Linked DNA regions of Homo sapiens. The protein of the gene in region 3 interacts with the protein of the main gene of each other region in a pairwise test. Each region holds a gene or a part of one and is shown on either strand. Other genes may lie near its edges.

Evidence for each region.
Region 1: the proteins of TRIM2 (region 3) and TNIK interact in a two-hybrid assay, tested with the Homo sapiens proteins (2 studies listed by BioGRID and IntAct).
Region 2: the proteins of TRIM2 (region 3) and CDK20 interact in binary tests that used the Homo sapiens proteins (3 or more experiments, as listed by UniProt).

What each region holds. Positions count from the first base shown.
Region 1 is NC_000003.12:171,058,364-171,065,471, forward strand, and holds the end of TNIK (TRAF2 and NCK-interacting protein kinase), read right to left. Parts: intron 5,602-7,108; coding exon 5,518-5,601; 3' UTR 51-5,517; downstream 1-50. UniProt on the Homo sapiens protein: Serine/threonine kinase that acts as an essential activator of the Wnt signaling pathway. Recruited to promoters of Wnt target genes and required to activate their expression. May act by phosphorylating TCF4/TCF7L2.
Region 2 is NC_000009.12:87,971,526-87,979,543, forward strand, and holds the start of CDK20 (cyclin-dependent kinase 20), read right to left. Parts: upstream 3,009-8,018; 5' UTR 2,922-3,008; coding exon 2,847-2,921; intron 2,715-2,846; exon of another isoform or gene 2,645-2,714; intron 2,550-2,644; coding exon of another isoform or gene 2,511-2,549; coding exon 2,397-2,510; intron 1-2,396. UniProt on the Homo sapiens protein: Required for high-level Shh responses in the developing neural tube.
Region 3 is NC_000004.12:153,207,422-153,214,529, forward strand, and holds part of TRIM2 (tripartite motif-containing protein 2), read left to right. Parts: intron 1-7,108. UniProt on the Homo sapiens protein: UBE2D1-dependent E3 ubiquitin-protein ligase that mediates the ubiquitination of NEFL and of phosphorylated BCL2L11. Plays a neuroprotective function. May play a role in neuronal rapid ischemic tolerance.

The DNA.
Region 1 (7,108 bases), on a different chromosome or scaffold from region 3:
GAGGAAAGGAGAATAGTTTGGAAGTGGCAATGAGGAACAAGGAGGCATCCTACGATTAATGTTTTATTATTCATATTTTGACAAAGATAGCATATTATATTCCAGGACATGGTAGTTACCATGTGGGGAAACCTATCAAAGCATTTTTAATGACTGCTTAGAATAACTGTAGAAAGTACTTTCTCAATGATTTTTGTATGCAAGAAAAAAAATACCTGAAAGTAACCAAAAGTTTCAGACTGGAAAATATGCCAGGAAGATTTTCTTCTCTCATTCTCAGGTGAGGTTATAATCCAGTTTTAGCAAATGTTTGACAATTTAAAATACTTTTGAAAACTGGAGATTTAAAAAATGTAAACAATTGTAGGCACAGCAAAATCGTAGTTTTCCCTTCTGATATTATACATTTGGCATCTCTCTACAGTTATATTAACATAAATAAGGCAGCTAAAACGTTCAAAAATAGTTTTACAACATTCAATTTTAAAATTTCATTCAAGCTGTAATCTTTTGTTTCCTGCTGCCACCTAACATTTGAAGTTTTGATTCAGGGTAATGTCCAAGGTTTCTTAAACATACCATAATAAGTATTACTATTCCTTAACATTTATCCCAGGGGAAGAGATAAGGGAAAGGGGTAGCTGGGCATGATATTTACAGTGTACAAATAATGATCCATTGCCAGAAATGAAAACTCACCTTTCCACCAGCATTTGCTCAGCCTCAATAGTGCAATGCAACTTGGTGCTGATAAAAATAAACCATTAAAACCAAACCCTATCATGCAAGGAGTGAGTTTGAAGATATGTACACAAACTCAAAAATCTGTAAACTTTAGGACATTTTTATTTTTAACTGTATTTTCTACTTTTCATCCAAACATTTGTCATCATGGACTCAGAAGAATCCAAGATTTTGATCTAGATTTAAAATAACTCAAACATTACCCAGGGATTTTTGTTTAAAAATGCTTTTATGGGGATTTTTATTTTGGTATATTCTGGCACTTCCTGGAATGGCAGGTCTAGAAGAATAAAGTCCAAAGCACAGGGTTATGATCTCACACTGTTTAATGCTAAGCAAACTGTTGAATATTCTAGTTATCAATGGAAGAATTCCCAGAATAATGGTGTAGAAATAAAAACAACCTAGAAAATGTTTGGTAGGAATATACAAATTGTCAGTTTTGAACTTGCAAATTCTCAAGAGGTTTTCTTCTTTGCTGGGACTCCTGAAAAGTGATCAATTTTACACCCAATTTATTTAAGATCCATGAAAGGACAGCTTACTTTAGGGTTCCTGATATATAGTGACCAAGGAGATATAGTGGCATTTATGAGAAATATTAGCAGGTAAATTAAATCAAATTTAGACTTTTGGATTTTAGATTTATGTTACAACTATGTAGTCTCAGGGGAGGTCAGTTTTTGGTTGGTTGGTTATGTTTTGCTTGATTTGGTTAGATTTAAATTTTGAAGAATGAACTAAAAGGTAACTAACAAGTTAGAGACTGTTGAAATGATCAGAACATGGTACCAGTGGTGATTCTGGAATATAAAGAGCATAGTAGCATCATTCAGAATTGTTATCAGCATGCTGTGGATTTTCTCATGTTTTCCTGCAGTAGGTTAAAATTAAAAGTTTTATCAATAACTATTTTTTTTCTTAAAAATAATGTAGCACATCTTACATCTTAAAGCAATCAGCACAAATGCAAGTGATGCCTGTTCAAGCAGACTTTCAAAGACAGCACACACTGTTAACACAAAGAGCTCTTCCACGTTTCAAGAATACAGTGACGGGAACTGGTACACATAGTAGTAGGGAAAGCATTTTTTTAAAAGCTTCGTGGAATGTGAGACTTTAGCCCCTTCCTTTCCTGGCAGTGGATAAAACCAAAATGGTTCTGGCTGGAATTTCACATCTTTCTAATAATCTACTGGACAGGAGGGACCAGAGACACCAATTACCAATGAGTCACAAGAACAGACAAAAATTGTTAGTAGGTTTTGACAACCAGGAACTAAGGTGTTTTTAAAAAACATGTACTTGATGCAAAGTATATTAGGAGTGCACCCTAGAAAACAATGTCAAAGTGTTAGAAAAATGGAGCCCCTGTCCAGGTGACCTTGTGAGATTTCACCCATAACTTAATATACCCTGTTTAATAAAAATAATAGTTCTAGGTCTTCTTGAAGGATTGTTTAGAAGTCTCCAAGAAAAATAATGAGATCTATCTAAAATAGAGCTGTTCAATTTTATGTGGAACTTAGTGAAGGCTGTCTTCATTTGCATTGTGTGTTATGACAGTGGTCTGGCTGGAACTGGCAGGGGGAAGAGCCTCATTATTTGAAGGAACTTCACTGGTCATCCATTCCTACCACCACTGGATGCAGGAATCCATGCTACAGTATCTTTGACTGGCACCCAGGAATGATGGTCACCTGCCAGACCCCAGACCCAGACTATGGTGTGGGCAGGCTCAGTAGATTTTACTGGATGATTATTAATTTAGAGCAGTAAGAACTGGCAGATCTAGTGAAACTTACTCTGAGGGGAGGGCTCAGTTTCTCCAGTTTCTCTTTGTAGGAAAATAAAAATAAAATGAGCCAATTTCTAGAGACAAAATCACCTATAAAAAGATCAGAACTGAAGATTTTTTTTGTTGAGATGCTATAAAAATGGATGAAAAGCAACCGTTCCTCCCCTACCCCCAAAAAGAATTAAGGCAATTCAGAAAGTTTGGATGAGCCACAAGGACACCATTCTGACGTATTCTGCATGTTCTAGGCCTCCTTATGTCAGGGCTGGGGTCTGTCTTGCTGGAGGAAAATTTATTTTTGAAGATAAAAGCTTCAGTGAATTCTTTAAATATCTGTCTTTTAAAGAGCACAGATTTCTGGGGGGCCCATTTAAATTTGGATTTGCCTTGTACTCAGTGTAAAATATTAGTACAAAAATATAAAAGGCATGGCTTGATGTTTAACGTGTGTTTTATTGTTGTTGGCACCAGAAAAGCTCATGTTCTATGTTATGTCACTGTACATACTGTAAACAAGACTGCATTAATATTGTTTTCTTATGATTTGTTTCAATGACTCTAGATTTTAAAAAATACATTCACAAACTACCTTATGTTTAAACACAATGATTCCCTTTTATTTCTTAACTGTACCCAAAATCCCACAATAAAAAAATCATTTAAAGCTGTGTGTTTCAAACTTATCACTTAGAAATAAAAACAAAACAAAACATAAAAACAAAGATCAGTTTGCAACATAATTTAAAGAAGCTTCTGGTTTAAAATACCACAGCAGCAATATAAAGAGCTGGTGGCAATCACATTCGGGAGTGAAATCGAAATCAATATATTTTGTCCACATCAGCATCCAATTACAGTAGTTGTTAAATTCAATCCAAAAAGTTATTGCTGAATTTGTGGCATGGAATTTGAGAAGATAGTATTGTTCAGCAGCACAACCACAGCAGTAAAAATGAGAACAGGAGGATTTCATTGCTTTTGAGAGCTAAAGGGACCATGAGGAGGATATCTTGCTGATTGCCTGAAGATAATCCTCAGTTACATTCCTGCATATTACCTGCTTTAAATAAATGCAAATGACAACCACCTTTTCAGGAGGGGCATAATAATGTAATCCAGAAACTAGAATGTTTCCCCTTCTCTTCCCCATCTTGCCCAAACCACTAGATTGAAATGGCTCCATTTTCCTAATGTGTATTTCGTTCTCATTAATAGTACATCAGCTGCTTGTGTATTTAGGCAAAGTCAGTAAGATCGTAGTTTTTTTTGTTGTTGTTGTTCCATTTACAGTAATTATTTTCTCCAGAAACAAGCCACATTAGTTTTTGTCATTGGATTCCCCCCACTTCCAATTTTTTAAGAAGAAAAATTTGGTCAACTACTGTTTCGTTTTAAAAATGTTAAATGCACCTGAGATTGCCGGTTGAGCTCTCTATATGTCTCCTGGAGATAACACTGCTGTGATGAACAGTGAAACAAAAACAAACAAAACGAGGTAGGTTAAAACAGGAAGCGCAACACAGATATTGTTTGCAACACCTCGATACCACAGGCGGCCATGCTTGTAGCTTTGGAAAAAAAAAATCCCAGTCGCATAAAAGTTCAAATCATTTGAGTAAGAGTTTATAAGGACACAAGTCAACCTGAACTAAATACATACATACTTCTGCACAAATGTTGTTTACCGTATGTTGGGTAATTTGGAGGAAGGTAAAGTGATTAGGGTCTCAAAATTTTGTCCAAAGCCTTGCTTTCAAGTTCTCTAAAATTGGAGCCAATGATGCCTCTTGTATCTGAGGCAGGCTTAGGAGTCTAGTCCCTTCTCTCACCCACACAGGGAGAACACAGGCAGCTCAGAAACATTTATTATTAATTTTTTCAGTCACAGTTTTCATCTTGAGAAAGTGGCACCCTCGGGAGAGCGCTGGGAATGTTCAGAGCCTGAATATCATCCACTCTCCAAGTCCCAGAAAGAACTCAACAAAGTCTCAGTCCTAATGAAGCCCAAACCAAGTGACCTCTTAGCTGGGAGGCTTTGTGCATTTTAAAAAAGACTATGTAAGCTTGTTTCCCAGAAGCTCTTTCTGTCTGACCCCATCTGTCATCCCATCTTTTTCCCTGATCTGTTGCATAATAGCTGAGGGAAAGTTGTGTTAGAGTGTCCCTCCATCGCTAGGCCAGCTCAACTCAATGGCGTTAGTATCCTGTTCAACACACTCCATTCTGTAAAGGGCCATATAAAAATGTGGCCTGTCAGATTCACAAAAGTGGTAGTTGATTTTATTAGACTAGTAGTTTTAAGGCTAGTAGTTTAGCCATTTAAAATCTATTTCCCAAAAGAGGGGAAAACTAGTATTTTTCTTCTCTTTTTAAAAATTCATTAGCCAGTTGCTATCAAAAAGCAACCTTTTGGGTTGGTGAAGGCAAGAGAGTTCTTAAATTACTCCACTATGTAGTTATGGCCTTCAGCCTAAGGAGATAAGGTACATTTATTGTGCTGTCTCTCATCATTGGAAATTTTACAACATACCATATACTTAAAACTAGTAGGCAGACAGAATTTAAAAGACTCATTTTCGCAGTATGCATTCTTTCCCCATTCTTGCAGAGTAAAGGGGTAAAGAAAAAAGGTAAAAACCTGAAAACCCACCATAACACAGCTTAATCGTTAAGAGCACACAATATTTGTTTCTATCCCTAATTCCGAAGGGCACATGGTCCATCTTTGTCCACAGACAAGGCAGCATTCTTGGGGATCTCCTGGAAATTCCTGCCACCTTTTTCTCTCCTTCTCAACCAGGCTGCAACATTGAAAGATGGACTGTACTGGGAGGGGCGGAGGGAGAGGAAAAAGGGAAAGCGATATGTTCAACCAAGCCTTCTGATTCTGCCTCTAGACTGGCATAAGTCCACATGAGTTATGTTCTTTTAAATTAGAAATAACGCCATGAAGATAAGTGCCAAGTGCTCTTCTGTTACCAGTTCATCATGGAATTTCTGTTGAGGGTCATGAAAAACACTTGGCTACTTCCTCCAGATCGCACGGATGCAAAAAATACCTGTTTGAAATTAAAAAGAAGTTAGTTCAACTGCATGGTCTTTTCCCCTCTTTTCTTCAACCGTCCATCCATTTTCTCTCACATGTCCTATCCTTGCCATGTGTCAGGTCTTAAGACTCAATGGCTTGTGTTTATAAAGTCCCTTTGGATATCGTGCATCCTATGTAAAAACTCCTGCCTTTATTCCTAGGTTGTTATTATTCCTTATTGTGGTATTGGTCTCCAGAGATGCTGAAGGGGCTATATCTTCATTTGTAACATCTCTTTGGGTGTTCACTTTTTAAAAGGGAGTTTCATGCTAGGATAACGTGCTGGATTTCTGGTCTAGGACCCAACAGGTTCTTTGTTAATTTCTAGAAAGGCACAGAAGCTTCCCTTCTCTCACCCTTAAATGACAAGAAAGTAGACTTCAGGATGGAAGGGAATCCCTTCAAATTCTCAAAGTCAAGGGGGAGTTTTAGGCCTACTGACTATCATACAGTTTCAGATTTCAGTTTTTTAAATTTAAGATAAAAACATTAAATAGTGTGGTCAGATAGGGCAAGGTATTTAATGCCTACTCATTTTGGCATTTCAAGAGTTAACGCATGGTTTCTCTGCTGATGGTGGCATATCCCAGGGCAAATGAGATCATAGCATTAATGAGGAGAACCACAGTCCATTAGGTCTGAGTCTGTTAAGTCATTTTATCAAACAACTGACAAACGTGAGAAAAATTTGGGTTACTGCTTGCTTGAGCTGAATGTTTAATGTTAAAGAACCACTGCCCCAGGAAAGTAATATTTTGGGCTATGGCCTAGCCCTTCAGTCAGTCAATACCTAACTTTTGTTAGGTAGTTGCTTTTGTCACTAGTCTAAAGTCTCTGCTACTTCATTTCTACAGCTTCTTCAGAAGAATGCTAACAACAACTTCTTAGGGAGGTCTCTGGAAATGCTTGACATTCACCTAATGCTGCATATGAAAGTAATGCTACTCTTAGGGTCAATGAATCAAAACGGAGAAGGACAGAGAGGGCCTATGGAAAACCACAATGAAGAAAAGAAAGGGCTGCTCTTCCCTCCAAGTTGTGTGCCCCTGGCTGTAAACCTTGGGTTGCAGACAACTGGTGTGGCCCCAGCCTACTCCTAAGGGTGTGGCATGGCTTGGAACAGCCCTGCTGGGGTAGGTTTTCAATCGGAATGTGGGTATCCATACCCAGATCACTCCTGGTTTTTTGATTCTTAGAGACTGGGTGGGAGCTGGAGTTTTACTAGGTTATGTTTGTTTTCTGGGAAATCTAAATGGCTGGAACCATCTTTGCCACCTGCAGCTACTGTCCACCCAGACCACATCAGGTCAGAGTAGTGGGCCAGGGTTGAATATAGTTTAGGCCCACATCACCAGGTTTGGACTAAGACCAACCTGACCTTTGGGGAACTGGGGTGGACAAAGGGATATACAAAAATTCAACCCATCATACTGTTTTTCTATAGGCGTTTATGTCTGTGGCTTTGGGGACAGCATTTC
Region 2 (8,018 bases), on a different chromosome or scaffold from region 3:
GGTGTGCCCCCACTCTAATTCTCCATGAACACTAAAAGGTCTAAAAAAGGTCATTTAGTGGCACCATCTGGTCCGCCCACCCAGCCTACCCGCCTGAAAATCATCTGGATGGTCACACATGAGATGGACAGGTCTCCTCCTGTTTCCTCTAGAACCACCGAATCCCAGCACCAAGGAAAGGACACCAGGAATCCCACCTTTCCCAGTGCTGGGACAGCTACAGACACATCACAAACACTGAGGCCAGTACTGTCAGAGGAGCCAGGCTACACAGAGAGTGAGCTGAGAGACAGGACTCTTAATGAACTCACAGCACAAAGGACAAACAGTTTAACAAATAAATGAATAAAAGGGATATATTCAGATTCTGTAAGTACAGGAACCAAAATACAAGGGGGCTGGGCATGACGTCTCATGCCCGTAATCCCAGTACTTTGAGAGGCCAAGGTGGGCGGATGGCTTGAACCCAGGTGTTTGAGACCAGCCTGGGCAACATGGTGAAACCTTGTCTCTACAAAAAATACAAAAAACTAGCCAGGCATGGTGACACGTGCCTGTAGTCCTAGCTACTTGGGAAGCTGAGGTGGGAGGATCACCTGAGCCCAGGAGGTTGAGACTACAGGGAGACAAAATCGCACTTCTACACTCCAGCCTGGGTGACAGAGTGAGACCCTGTATCAAAAAAAGAAAAAAAATCAACAGAACTAGAAGAGGATAGTGTGATTCTGTGAGTGGAGAAAAGGATACTTCTTTATTTAGGTGGGGTGGGGCTAGATGAGGACCCAGTTTGTGGGGATCTGGGATAAAGCTCTGAGCAGGAAGAAAAGCAAGTGCAAGGCCCTAACGCCAGCACAGAAGGAGGCTAGAGGGATGTGAGTACATGAGATTGTTTAAGGGAAGGATGTGTCTGCCTTGTTCTGTGCTCCTGGACCCTAGATAGGTGCTGGTCACTGGAGAGATGCCTAAGAAGTTGTGTTGAATGAGAGAAAAGGGAGAGGCCAGCTGGAGGTGGGCACATGGTGATAGTGCTCTAAGTGTGAAGAGAAGCCACCAGGGCTTTTTACGCAGGGGAGCCGATGACTTAACTTACACTTTTGACAAAGCCCTCCGGACTGTGGCTATGGAGAGCAGTGGGGAGGCTGCCACTGTCATTCTGATGAGTGGTGATGATGACTTGGGCAAGGAGCAAATCTAGAGTATGTTTTAAAGTTAGAACCTTCAGAATTGCTGACCAACTGGATGTAGGGACCATATCACCAGCTTCCTTATGGATCTCTCCACCTATCCCACACATGGCTGTCTGGAAGCCCTTTTATCTTCCTCAAAAAATCAAAATGGCCTGATTGCTGTTTTCGGATTTTTCAGGTAGTACACAACCATTTAACAGATCAAAACACATGCACACATTCAGGTAAGACATAAAATCCAACAGAAAAAGAACAAAAGAAAAATCCTACAGTCAATCTTAGAGTGTATTCTACCAGACTTTACAACAGATATGGCACACACAAATACACATTCACATATATAATATTTCCAAACAAAACCCAGATGACACAAAATTTTATAACATGCTTTTGTCATCCAATATATCATGCATATCTCCAGATCACAGAGACCCAACCCTGTTAACTCTCCAGGGAGTCAAATACATTCCCTATTTCGACATGGGTGAGAGAGAGCACCAAAAGAGTAATGACACTAGGGGTGAAAGATGCCCCTCTTCGTGTTCCAGCAGCCCCTCCCGGTACCCTATCACAGCACGAACCACACTAGGTGGGCCCTGTTGCCTCTGTCTCTTGTTAGCACACTTAAGTCCTCAGGAGCTGGGCTGGAGCTGGTTTCTCTGTGTCACCAGTGCCCAACACAGGGTAGAGCCTATGGGAGGTCCCAAGGGAAGAATGGACTCTCAATCAAACCTGGGCCAAACCCTCTACTGACTAACGGAGGGCCCAAGAGCTGGTGACATAACCTCCTCCTCTCACCTGAGAAACAGAGATCTGGAAACCTGCCTTGTACAGTAGTAAAGAGGTCTCAAAATGACAATGTATATAATGCCTGCAGAACACATCGGGAGCTCAATAGGTGCTAGTTACATTATAAATCACTACATGTTTTGAGAAAAAAAGTCGGTGAATGAATGAATACATTAAGAAATAAGTAGGCAAATGAGAGTGAATGTGTGAGAAATGAAAGAAATAGGTAAATAAAGGTGAACAAGTGGACAAAAAAGGGCAAAAGGGGGTAAGGAGGCAGATGAATGAGCAGTGTGTGTGAGTGACAGCGGGAGGAAATCCCTGAAAGCTGGTGAAGGCGTAGCTGGGAAAATGAAGGCACAAAGAAGTGGGAACGAGCGACTGAGGGTGAGAATACCATGCCCCCCCTCCCCTACTCACATACTGATTGTCCTCCATCTCCTGCAGAGCCTTAATCTCCCGCAGGGCCTGGTTAGGGAAGCCGTCCTCCAACCGCCTTAGGGCCACCTTCTTGAGGGCAACTATCTCGCCAGTCTGCAGGATAGAAGGCAGACACTGCCAGCCCACCCTCGGCTGGGAAAGAGAGATGAAGGTGGGTGAGGGGAAGGTGGTTGAGAGAGAGACACGCGCCCCCGGCTCGGCCAGAGGCCCTCCTCGGGGGTCTAGGACTAGCCTGGGACCCAGCCGCTGGGGTAGGGGACCAAGCCAGCTGTGCGGAGGGAAGCGCAACGGCCCAAAGTAGGTTTAGAATATGAGTAGGTTTTAAAAACTGTACTGGATGTAAAAAGGGAACCGAAACAGTTTAGAGCGTTAGCCGGAGGGTGGCGGGGGCACACCCCCGCCAGGCTGCCGGCCGCGGTCCAGCCTCACCTCCACGTGCTTGGCCTTGAAGACGATGCCGTGGGCGCCCTCCCCGATGCGGCCCAGGATGCAGTACTGGTCCATCCCGCTGCAGTCGTGGGCCTGTGCCCCTGTGCCCCTGAACTTCCAAACTCCACTTCTCCTCCACCCCACGCTGATCTGAGCTCGCACGCTGTTGCCTAGCAACAGCGCGGCAGCTGACCACTGGGGCGGTTCCTGTAGGCGACGTCACCAGGAGAACGGAAGCTGCGTCGAGTCAGGGGTGACAGCTCCGGGCCCCACTGCGCCTTTTCCTAGCCCTCCGCTGTCACGCAGCAGCAAGCTTAATCCCGCATAAAAAACGCATGCGCCGAGAGCGTGCCCGCAGCAGGGCCCACGGAACGATGACAGCAGGCACCTCCTATCTGCCCCCGCCCCCGGCGTCACGTGACTAGCTGCGCTGGTGCACGCAGCCGGGAGGGGCGGGCTCCTTCCCCTGGCAAGCCGGAAGCTCCGCACCTGTAAGTAGAGGTTCAGGCTTCGACCACGCGCAGGTGCTGTTTTCTAGCTCCGAAAGCCAGGCACTATTGATGCAGACAGACAGGTCCCGGGCTGCGTTGTGGAAAGAGGGTCTGTGGGTCCTCTTGTCTTAAAATGTCAGTTGGCTACGTGTACCCACAGATTTTTAAAAGGGCATACTCTGAGGGCCGGGCACGGTGGCTCACGCCTGTAATCCCAGCGCTTTGGGAGGCTGAGGCGGGCGGATCATCAGGTCAGGAGTTCGAGACCAGCCTGACCAACATGGTGAAACCCCGTCTCTATTGAAAATACAAAAAAAATTAGCCGGGCGTGGTGGCGTGCTCCTGTAATCCCAGCTACTCAGGAGGCTGAGGCAGAAGAATCGCTTGAACCCGGGAGGCAGAGGTTACAGTGAGCCGAGATTGCGCCACCGTACTCCAGCCTGGGTGACAGAGCGAGACTCTGTCTCAAAAACTAAAACTAAAAATAAAATAAAAGGGCATACTCTGACCCAGACAGGACAGAGTAGGCCTTAAACTTCTGAAAGGATGCTCAACTTCACATACAATAAACAAATGCAAACTAAAGTTACAGTTTTTCACATATTGGATGGCTAAAGATCTCAGGTCTAATAGTTCATTGACCAAGCTACGGGAAAACAAGCACTTTCATACATTGCTGGTGGCAGTATAATTTGACGATGTTGATCAAATCACAAATGCACAGACCCTCAGACTCAGCAAAGCCACTTCTAGCAATTTCCCCAATAGACACCTTTTACACATGTGAAATGACATGTACAAAGTTATTCCATTGCAACGTTGTTTCAACGGCAAACTATTGGAAACAACACAGATGTCCATCATTGTGGTGCCTCCTTCAAATGAGGTATTAAATCTTTTTATGTACAGCAATGGGAAGATTTCTAAAATAGGTTGTTAAATGAAAAAGGCAAGATGCAGGACAGAATGCATAGAGTACCACTGGCTGTGTAAACAAAAGGAGAAAAGAATATAAATAATGCTTGTACATCCATTACAAGATATCTGGAAAGATACACAAGATTTCCTGAGTGTGGTTACCTGGTGGAAGAGGGACTGGGAGGACAGGGGGACAGAATAGGAGGCAGACTTTTCACTGGGTCTCTTTACATTATTTGAGTTTTGAATATAATTTATTAATTTTCCAAAAAAGCAAATATTTTCTAGCTTAGAAATTTCACTTCTGGGTTAATAATTGCAGAAGAATGACTTGATGTCCATACAAAGTATTCCTCCTGTTTGATGATAGCAGAGATCTGAAAACAACCCAAATACCCAGATGGAAAAATGGCTAAGTTAAGTTAAGGGAGTGCCATAGAATGGAATAGTTTTTAGCATTAAAACTGGCGAAGATAGGCTGGGCATGGTGGCTCAGGCCTGTAATCCCAGCACTTTGGGAGGCCGAGTCCTACGGATCACTTGAGATCAGGAGTTTGAGACCAGCCTGGCCAACATGGCGAAACTCCCTGCCTGTACGAAAAATACAAAAATTAGCCGGGCATGGTGGCACTCGGCCTGTAGTCCCAGCTACTCAGGAGGCCGACGCGGGAGAATCGTTTGAATGGAGGAGGCGGAGGTTGCAGTGAGCCGAGATTGTGCCAAGGCACTCCACCCTGGGCGACAGAGCAAAACTTGGTCTCAAAAAAAACAAACAAAAAAAAAAAGATACAGTAGGGAAAGGATGGTCTTCACAAATAGTGCTGGGTCATTTGAGAAGTCATAAGGGGAAAATAATGTATATTGACCCCAGTCTCACACCATTCACAAAATTGATTCCAGATGGACTGCAATCTAAATATAAAAGGTAAATAATGAAGCTTTTAGAAGAAAATTATATCTTAATGGCTTTGGATTAATTCAAGATCCTTAGGTTACAGAATACACTAAAAGAAAAACAAAAATGAGAAATTGGCCTTCATCAATGCTAAGAATATCTATTCATCAAAAGATACCATTAGAGACCAGGCACAGTGGCTCACACCTGTAATCCCAACGCTTTAGGAGGCCAACATGGGAGAATCAGTTGAGGTCAGGAGTTCGTGACCAGCCCGGCCAACATGGTGAAACCCTGTCTCTGCTAAAAATACAAAAATTAGCCAGGCATGGTGGCATGCACCTGTCATCCCAGCTACTCAGGAGGCTGAGGCAGGAGAGTTGTTTGAATCCAGGAGGTGGAGGTTGCCGTGAACCAAGATCACGCCACTGCACTCAAGCCTGGGTGACAGAGTGAGACTCCATCTCAAATTAAAAAAAAAAAAAAAAAGATACCATTAGAGAGTGAACAAGAAAGCCACAGAAAGGCAAAAGAGAACTGTAATACATATATCTGACAAAGGACTCACATGTAGAATTTATAGAGAACTTTTATTATAACACTGAAGAAGAAGCAGACAATCTTACAAAAAAAAAATTAGAAAAACCTGGAATAGACACTTCGCAAAAGGTGATTCCTGAACAGCCAATAAATTTTGCAATATGTGTGTTTAACTTCCCTGACTAGAAGGGAATTTCATATTAAAACCACAACAGAGTGTTATTGTAATCACTAGAATAGTTTAAATGAAAAAGATAGATAATACCAAATGCTAGCAAAGAGCAACTTGAACTCTCATACACTGCTGCTAAGAGTGCAAGTTCATACAACCCCTTGGAAAAACTGGCACTTTTTTCCACAGGCACGTACCACCACGCCTGTAGAGGCAGGGTCTCTCTATGTTGCCCAGGCTGATCCTGGGCTTGAGGGATCCTCCCACTTTGGCCTCCCAGAGTACTGGACTTACAGGCCTGAGCCACCACACACGGCTCCACTTTGTCAAGTTTTACTAGCTAGTTTGAGGTTCAAGAAAAGTTTCAAAGCAAATGCCTTTTTATTGGACTAGTGACTTTTTTCTTTTTTTTCTTTTTTTTTTTTTTTTTGCCAAATCAATAACTGCATAATGACTTTTACATGACTAAATTTTACTTATCTTCCCACACATAAGACTGTCGTACAATTATCAAATGCTTTATGAAGCACCATTTTGTGCATAACATCACAGCACAAAGACTAGTATGATTATGGTAATGGGAGTTATTTCACTATTCTCTTCAAGAAATGGTAAAAGGAGACGATAATCTCAATTGATGCAGAAAAAGCATTTGACAAAATTCAACACTCTTTAATGAAGAAAGCACTCAACAAACTATAAATACAAGAAAACCACCTCAACATAATACAGGCCATGCAGGAAAAGCCCACAGTTAACATTACATTCAATGGTGAAAGATTGAAAGCTTTCCCTCTAAGATCAAGAACAAGTCAAGGATCCTCACTTTTGCCGCTTTTATTTTATATAATACTGGAAGTCCTAGCCAAAGCAATTAGAAAAATAAATAAATAAATACATAAATAGGCCGGGCACAGCGGCTCATGCCTGTAATCCCAGCACTTTGGGAGGCTGAGGCAGGTGGATTACCTGAGGTCAGGAGTTCAAGACCAGCCTGGCCAACATGGCGAAACCCCATTTCTACTGAAAATACAAAAATTAGCCGGGCATGGTGGCACGCACCTGTAGTCCCAGCTACTTGGGAGGCTGAGGCAAGAGAATCGCTTGAACCCGGGAGGCGGAGGTTGCAGTGAGCCGAGATCGCACCACTGCACTCCAGCCTGGGTGACAGAGTGAGACTCCGTCTAATAAATAAATAAATGAATGTAGGTAAATAAATAAATAGCATCCAAATTGGAAAGAAAAAACTATCTCTGTCTAGAGACAACATGATAATATATGTAGAAAATCCTAAATATGCCACAAAAAACTGTTAAAACTAATAAACAAGATAAACAGAGTAGCAAGATTCAAAATCAATATGCAAAAATCAATAGTTTCTATATACTAACAATGAGCACTCTGAAACAGAAATTAAGAAAATAATTCCATTTACAATAATATCAAAAAGAATAAAATACTTAGGAGTAAATAAGGAAGCAAAAGACTCATAGGTTGAAAACTAAAAAATGTTGCTGAAAGAAAGACACAAATAAATAGACATCTTGTGTTCATGGACTGAAGGACTTAATATTTTGAATATGTCAATACTACTGAAAACAATTTAAAGGTTTAATGGAATCTCCATGGGATTTCTTTTTTGCAGAATTAGAAAAAAAAATTATTCAGAAACCAATGTGGATTCTCAAGAGGCCCTAAATAGCCAAAACCAATCTTAAAAAAGGAGGAGGTCTTACTCGTCCAGATTTTAAAGCTTACCACAAGCTATAGTAATCAAAAAAGTGTGGTACTGACATAAAGGCAGACAGCCCAATGGAATAGAATGGAGAGCCTAGAAGTAAATCTTCACATACCTGATCAAATGATTTTTAAAAAAATTATGAAGACCATTCAATGGGGAAAGGACAGTCTCTTTAACTAATGATGGTGAGAAAGCTAGAGCTCTACATGCAAGAAAATGAAAAAATTGACCCCTTATATCATATGGAAAAACTAACTCAAAATGGATTAAAGACCCAAATTTACACCAGGTGCACTGGCTTACACCTGTAATCTCAGCACTTTGGGAGGCTGAGGCAGGATCACTTGAGGCCAAGGCCCGCGGATCACTTGAGGTCAGGAGTTCGAGACCAGCCTGGCCAACATGGTGAAACCCT
Region 3 (7,108 bases):
TATTGGGCAAGTTACCAAATCTCCCTAAGTCTGTATTCCTTCAGCCAAATAATGGGATGACAATCTGTTTCACTGGATGATTGTGAGGTTTAAATGTGGTCATGCATCAAAGTTCCTTATACAGCACTCAGTGCACAGCAAATATTCAGTGAATATTAATTATTTTATTATGACTGCTACCAGCATCTAACGACAGTCCTAAATACCATCTAAGTTTACCAAATGTCTCTCTGATTTACTGGTGACATTGGATAAAGGAAATGCTAAGAGAATGCAGTGCAGTGGAAAGAAGGGCGGGCTGGACATCAGCGTTCTGGTCTCCATCCGGGACTGGCCAGCAGGTGGCTCTGGAAAAGGGAGTCCCTCAGGGTCACGGTTTTCTATCTGTCCTGAGGCATGATCTTCAAAGTCCATTCTAGCTTCTGTCTATGACTTTAGATCTGACAGAAATCTCCCCGGAGGAACTCATGAGCCGTAAGTTAAACATGGTTTGAAATCACCCTTGAGCTCCTTGCTGATCATGCTTATCCATGTTGAAGGCTCATCCAGGAATAATAGATGGGTCTTGTGTGTGGTTTGAAAAGTTCACTTCTGGCCAGGTGCAGTGGTGAACCCTGTAATGCCAGCACTTTGGGAGGCCAAGGTGGAAGGATCGCTTGAGGCCAAAAGTTCAAGACCAGCCTGGGCAACATAGTTAGACTTTGTCTCTAAAAAATAAAAATAAAAATTAGCTGGGCATGGTGGTACACACCTGTGGTCTCAGCTACTCAGGAGGCTGAGGCGGTAGGATCACTTGAGCCTGGGAGGTGGAAGCTGCAGTGAGCTATGATTGTGCCAGTCCACTCCAGCCTGGGCAAGACCTTGTCTCAAAAGGAAAGTACACTTTTTATTTTCACAGGAGGTAATGATACATTCAAGTTGGTTACTTTACACAAGAAGAAATTTGTGTAATTTCTTACACAAAGAAATTACACAATTTTAGATAAATTTATCTTTATCTAAAATTATAATAAATAATTTTATTATTTAATAAACAATAAATAAATCTAAAACTCATTTATGTAAAATTTGTCACTATCTAAAATTTTCATAGTAAATTGTATGGAAAATATAATATCCCGTAGATGTGTCAAGACCAGAACATAGGTCAAACAGAGCTGAACTCGAGTCTCAGGTCTGCTGGTTGACTGCTAGTGACCTTGGGCAAGTCACTTACCCTCTCCAGTTCTTGTTTTCCTCACCTGAAAATGGGAACGATATTGTCTGCCTTATCGGGCTATGATGAGAATGGAAAGCTAGAACATGTAGACTGCCCTCCATAGTGCTTGGCATGGGGTCGTTCCTTTTCCCTCCCAGATGGAACACTGCATCCATCCCGATGGAGGTTTCTAGATGATGCTCCAGAGGATTCCAAGCAGAGAACATTTACAATTTCCATACATTACAAAAGTGTGAGCCTGCAAGGCAAGGTCTGGAGCTGGGAGCACATCTGGAGCAGTGGGTGGGTACTGAGAACCATATCCACACACACAAAGAAATGTGTTCGTTCAGAAGATCCAGCATCAATTCCTTCTTCCTAAGATTTGACAAGACTGGAGTCATTTCTTCACCAGGCCCATTTTATGAAAAACCCTGGGAAAACTGAGGTCCAGCAGCCAAAGATCTAACACAGCGGAATCAGGAAAAATGGTGGACAGGCCCCTGAAGGCACGTAAGGAGCAGGGAGCCTGGTGACCTTGGTGCACCCAATGCCTCCCTAACTAGAGTAATGGAACACCAATGTGGTTTACATTCATAATCCCTTGCATTTGAGAATTTTTAAATCTACTTAAATTTTCAAACAAGGGACACTCACACCACCTCCCACACTTATTAGCATGCTGTTTTATCACTCCGATATGTTCAAGGGACCCACCCCCATAAAAGATGGAAGATGAATCAGAAAACTCAACTGGAATTGCACTCCCTAGAGGGGCCCTGGGAGTTGTTTAGATATGCATAGTCTCACCTCAAGGCACATGCTGGGTACAAGATCCCTTATCACACCTCCAGTCCTGCTCAGCTTTTTAAGGGAGCATTTCCTGATATATAGGTCTTTAACTACCAGGTGTATTTGCCCACTGTCCACCTGTGCCTTCAAGTACCGTACTTAACAAGTTGGAACCGAGGGAATGGTACACTTCACATTTTGCAACTGTTATGCAAATAGAACTTCAATGAAATTCCTCAAACTGTTGACTCTAGAAACCGTGGGAGACAAAGGGTCAGTGTCTGACTTCACGAACGTTACCAACTTGAAAAATGAGATCTATTCCTTAGTGTGTGGGAGGAAGACATTTAAATCTGTAGTACCCTCAAAGCCTCACTCTAAACCTGGTCTGGCACTTTTCAATGTGTGTTCTTTGATATGGTAAGTAGTTAAGTATATCCCACCAGAGACCTTCCAAGGATGGGTTTTTTCCTCCATATGACTTCTCTCACTCTTTGCAGGAGAATAAAATAGAGTTTCAACTGAACTTTAAAGCTGTAACCTGATCTCAGAATCATGCACCATAAACAGCATTTGTGCTTTTCAAGATACTTTCAAATCCATATAGTTTTCCAAGATATTCCTAGTTGCCACATTGGGTGATTTAATTTTTTTTTTTTTTTTTTTTTTTTGAGATGGAGTCTCACTCTGTTGCCCAGGCTGGAGAGCAGTGGCGAGATCTCGGCTCACTGCAACTTTCACCTCCCAGGTTCAAGCGATTCTTCTGCCTCAGCCTCCCAAGTAGCTGGGATTACAGACACCTGCTACCACGCATGGCTAATTTTTGTATTTTTAGGAGAGACAGGGTTTTGCCACATTGGCCAGGCCGGTCTCAAACTCCTGACCTCAGGTGATCTGCCTGCCTTGACCTCCCAAAGTAATGGGATTTCGGGTGTGATCCACCGTGCCTGGGCTGGGTGACTTAATTTTAAATGTAGGGACATCAAGCAAAATGTTGCTGAGGAGTCTCTTTCGCAGCAAAAGTCCTGTGAAATCTGCAAGGCCATCTTTTTCATGGGTCCCCAAATGTTTCACAGGCAACTGGGCAATAATTGCATTTCCAGGAATGCCAAATGGAGCCAAATCCTTTTAATAGCTCACTGACATGCAGGTTATTCCACTGGGGACCAAAAGGAAGGAACTAGAGCTCTCAAAATATTTGATTCTTGATTTGTGCTCTTCACTGGATGATTCTATTTTCTTGAGAGCATTTTTAACGAAACAGCAGCAATCAGTGATTTCTTAGAAATGTGGCCCCTTTAAATACACTTCAGTGAGGCTAGCTCTTGTGTTTCCTGGACACTCTGTGTGTTCTGGACATACTGGAGGCACAGCATAAATATTAATGCTGGCCATTACAAAAAGAAAATGAAAAGACCCCATAAGGCAGCAGTGACCCTAGAAGCCCCAGAAGCCGTGTTGGAACTGTGACAAGGAAGGATAGTGACAAGATCTGAAAAAAGCAGCCCTCTTCCCACACTCAACACATGCAGTAAACCCAGACATGCAGGGCACCATTGTCTGAGCTGTCACTGGAGGGCTGGGAGGAGACAGGGGATGGGGCAATGGCAGCCTACCCACCCCTCCTCATCACTGTCCAGGGGCATTCAGGAAACACAGGCTTCCAATATGAGGCTGCCTTTTTTTCTCACAAGCCATGCTCACTAGGAATCCATAGCGGCCATCTGCACACCGACCTGGTGGTGTCTCAAGCTTCCAGGTGTGGTTTTGGGGGCAGGGTCCTTGAGGAAGGGGGTGCTGCTGACAGTGAGGTAACCTGAGGTCAGCTCTGGACAGGGCTGGGTGGAAGAAGAGTGTAGTGACTGCTGATCCCTGTCCTTTCTAGGAATTGGGGTTACTGGGTCAGAGAAACATCTCAATACCTTCCAGGCTTCCAAGGCTGGTTGTAAACCTGCTCCTTGATAAAAGAAACTACATCCAACCTTTAGGAGCAAGGTGGGGTAACATGGGAGCAGATCTTAGTTCATTTGTTTGTTTGTTTTTGCTTGCCTGCTTGCTTTTTTGTTTTTTCTTTTTCTTTTTTTTTTTTTTTTTGAGACAGGGTTGCACACTGTTGCCCAGGTTGGAGTGCAGTGGTGCAATCATGGCTCACTGCAGCCTTCACCTCCCAGACAGGTGATTCTCCCACCTTAGCCTCCCAAGTACCTGGGACTACAGGCATGCACCACCATGCCTGGCTAATTATTTTTTATTTTTTTGTAGATATGGGATTTTACCATGTTGCCTGGGCTAGTCTCTGAACTCCTGGGCCCAAATACTCTGCCCACCTGGGCCTCCCAAAGTGCGGGATTACAGGCATGAACCACCTCACCCAGCCTACAAATTCTTATATGACAATTTGAATCTCTGCTTGGATTTGTTTTATCCTCTCTTGTGCTTGTAACTCAAACTTTAATACTTGAAAAGTTTCATCAAAATTTAAATATACTTTTCTAAATCTGTGAGAAGGCTGTCTCCCAAGATGGTTTGTTACTGCACATCTTTTCCCCGGTAGATGGAAATATCCCTTCTCTATTCTCTTTCCCTTAGTCTTTCAAAAACTCAGTGAGGAGGAAGTGCTTGCTTCTAGCTTCTGGCGGTAGGCTACATTTCCCAGCCTGTCAGAATGGCCTCTCTGCAGGCTTCAACCCTTATGAGAAATAAAGCTGTCCTTTAGCAAAGTCATCAAGCTAAGTGTCTGTCAACAGATGATGATTAAAGTGTGGTACATATACACCATGGAATACTACTCAGCCATAAAAAGAATGAAATCATGCCTTTGGCAGCAGCATGGATGAACCTGGAGGCCATTATCCTAAGTGAAATGAGTCAGAAACAGAAAGCCAAAAACTGCATGTTCTCAGTTATAAGTGGGAGGTACACAGTGGGTATATGTGGACATAGAGAGTGGAATAATAGGCATTGGAGGCTCCAAAAGGTGGGAAGATGGAAGGGGATAAAGGATGAAATATTGCCTATTGGATATAATGTACATTACTCAGATGATGAGTACACTAAAAGCCCAGACTTCACCATTACGCAATATTTCCATGTAAGAAAGCTGCACTCGTGGTGGTGTATGCCTGTGGTCCCAGCTATTCAGGAGGCTGAGGAGAGAGAATTGCTTGAGCCTGAGAGTTCGAGGCAGTGAGCTGTGATTGCACCACTGCAGTCCAGCCTGGGCAACGAAGTGAGACTCTGTCTCTAGGAAAAAAAGAAAAAGAAAGAAAAAGAAAAGAGGTGGATGCAGACTGGAGATTTAGGAAAGCCTTTTCAGCTCCTTTCTCTTGCCAAGTCTTGTTTGTGGCTTTGGTGGGTGGTTTTGTTTGGGGGCCTGTCTTCTTTATTCCCTTTTCTTTTTTCTCTTAATCAAAGCAGTCTGTTCTGGTACTGCAGTGAAACAACTCTTTCCAGTTCCTTTGCATGGTGGTTGTGCACGTAGCCTCCAGGCCTGGGCTTGCATCAGTCATTTTGTCTATTCATACAAAGGGAAATTTAGGCTTTGTTCAGTTCATCTCCTACCAGGGCATGTACTTTCACAGCTACTGCCTGGGAAGCTTTGTGTGCATGAGATATCACCAGTCTGCCAGGCTACCAACTTGACTGTAAGTGGAGAGACTAACTGATGAAGCAATGACTGTGTGCCAGGAACTGTTCTAAGTGCTTTATGTGTATGAGCCAGTCAGCCCACTATTACTGTTCTTCTCCATTTTCAGGTGAGGAAACTGAGGCTCAGATTGTTGAGAAAATTGTCCCAAGCCGCACAGCTGGTCAGGGGCAGGCCAGCATTCAGTTTCCAGAGCCTGTGTTTTTAACCATTATGTGATGCCTCCAGGGTACATTATATTCTTTTGCATGAATGTGCAAAAATATGTCTTCATGCTTCTATTTCTGTTCATTTAACTTGTTTCAATTTTTTTCTATCACAAATAATACAGCAATGAATGTTTTTGCAATAATAGCTTATAATGATAGTTAACATTTGTCGAATCGCTAACAAAGTGATGGGCTCTGTTTCAAGTTCTTTATGCATCTTAATTAATTTAATCTTTGTAGCAATCCCACTATTATTTTTTACTTATTTATTTATTTTTTGAGACAGAGTCTCGCTCTGTCGCCCAGGCTGGAGTGCAGTGGCACGATTTTGGCTCACTGCAACCTCTGCCTCCCGAGTTCAAGCAATTCTCCTGCCTCAGCCTTCCAAGTAGCTGGGATTACAGGTGCATGCCACCATGGCTGGCTGACTTTTGTATTTTTAGTAGAGACGGGTTTCACCATGTTAGCCAGCTGGTCTTGAACTCCTGACCTCAGGTGATCCACCCGCCTCGGCCTCCCAAAGTGCTGGGATTACAGGTGTGAACCACTGTGCCTGGCAAATCCTACTATTATTACTATTTAACGAATTTAATCTTTGTAACAAACCTACTATTATTACCATTTAACAGAAGAGGGAAACGAGGCACAGGACAGTTGGCTACATATTTTGTTCCAGATTGCACAATTAGAAAGTGGCAGCTTAGCACCATAAGACATAGTGAGGAAAAAAGAAAAAAAAAAAGTGGATGGGCTGGCATTGAAACCCAGAGCTGGTACTCTTATGATAGTGTCTAGACAATATCTGTGACCACACCTCTGATTGTACCTCAAGAAGAAAGATTTTTAAAGTGAAATTACTAGAGCATAAGATATAAACATTTAAAAGGTTTTTGATACATCTTACAAAAGTGCTTTTCAATAACACTGATTGATCATGCTCATTTGCATTTCCATGAGCACTGTGTAATTGATCAAGGACTCTAAAAGTTAGATAAGCCACTGATAAATGGAGATGCCCCTCTAAGTCCCTGGGCAGTAAAACCTGACCAGCATAGCCTCCAATAACCTGCATAGTGTTGAGGAGAGCTTGGATTTAAGAGATTAAGAGGGTCAAACTCTTTTCTGTCCATTTTAAAATGCAAGTTTTATTTAAGAGGAACTATCTAATATGCTGAAGACAGTATCAGGTATCTGTAAAATTGCTTTTTGTAACTCAGAATCTTGGAACAAAAGAAACAATAAAGAAAATTTGGAACCAGAACT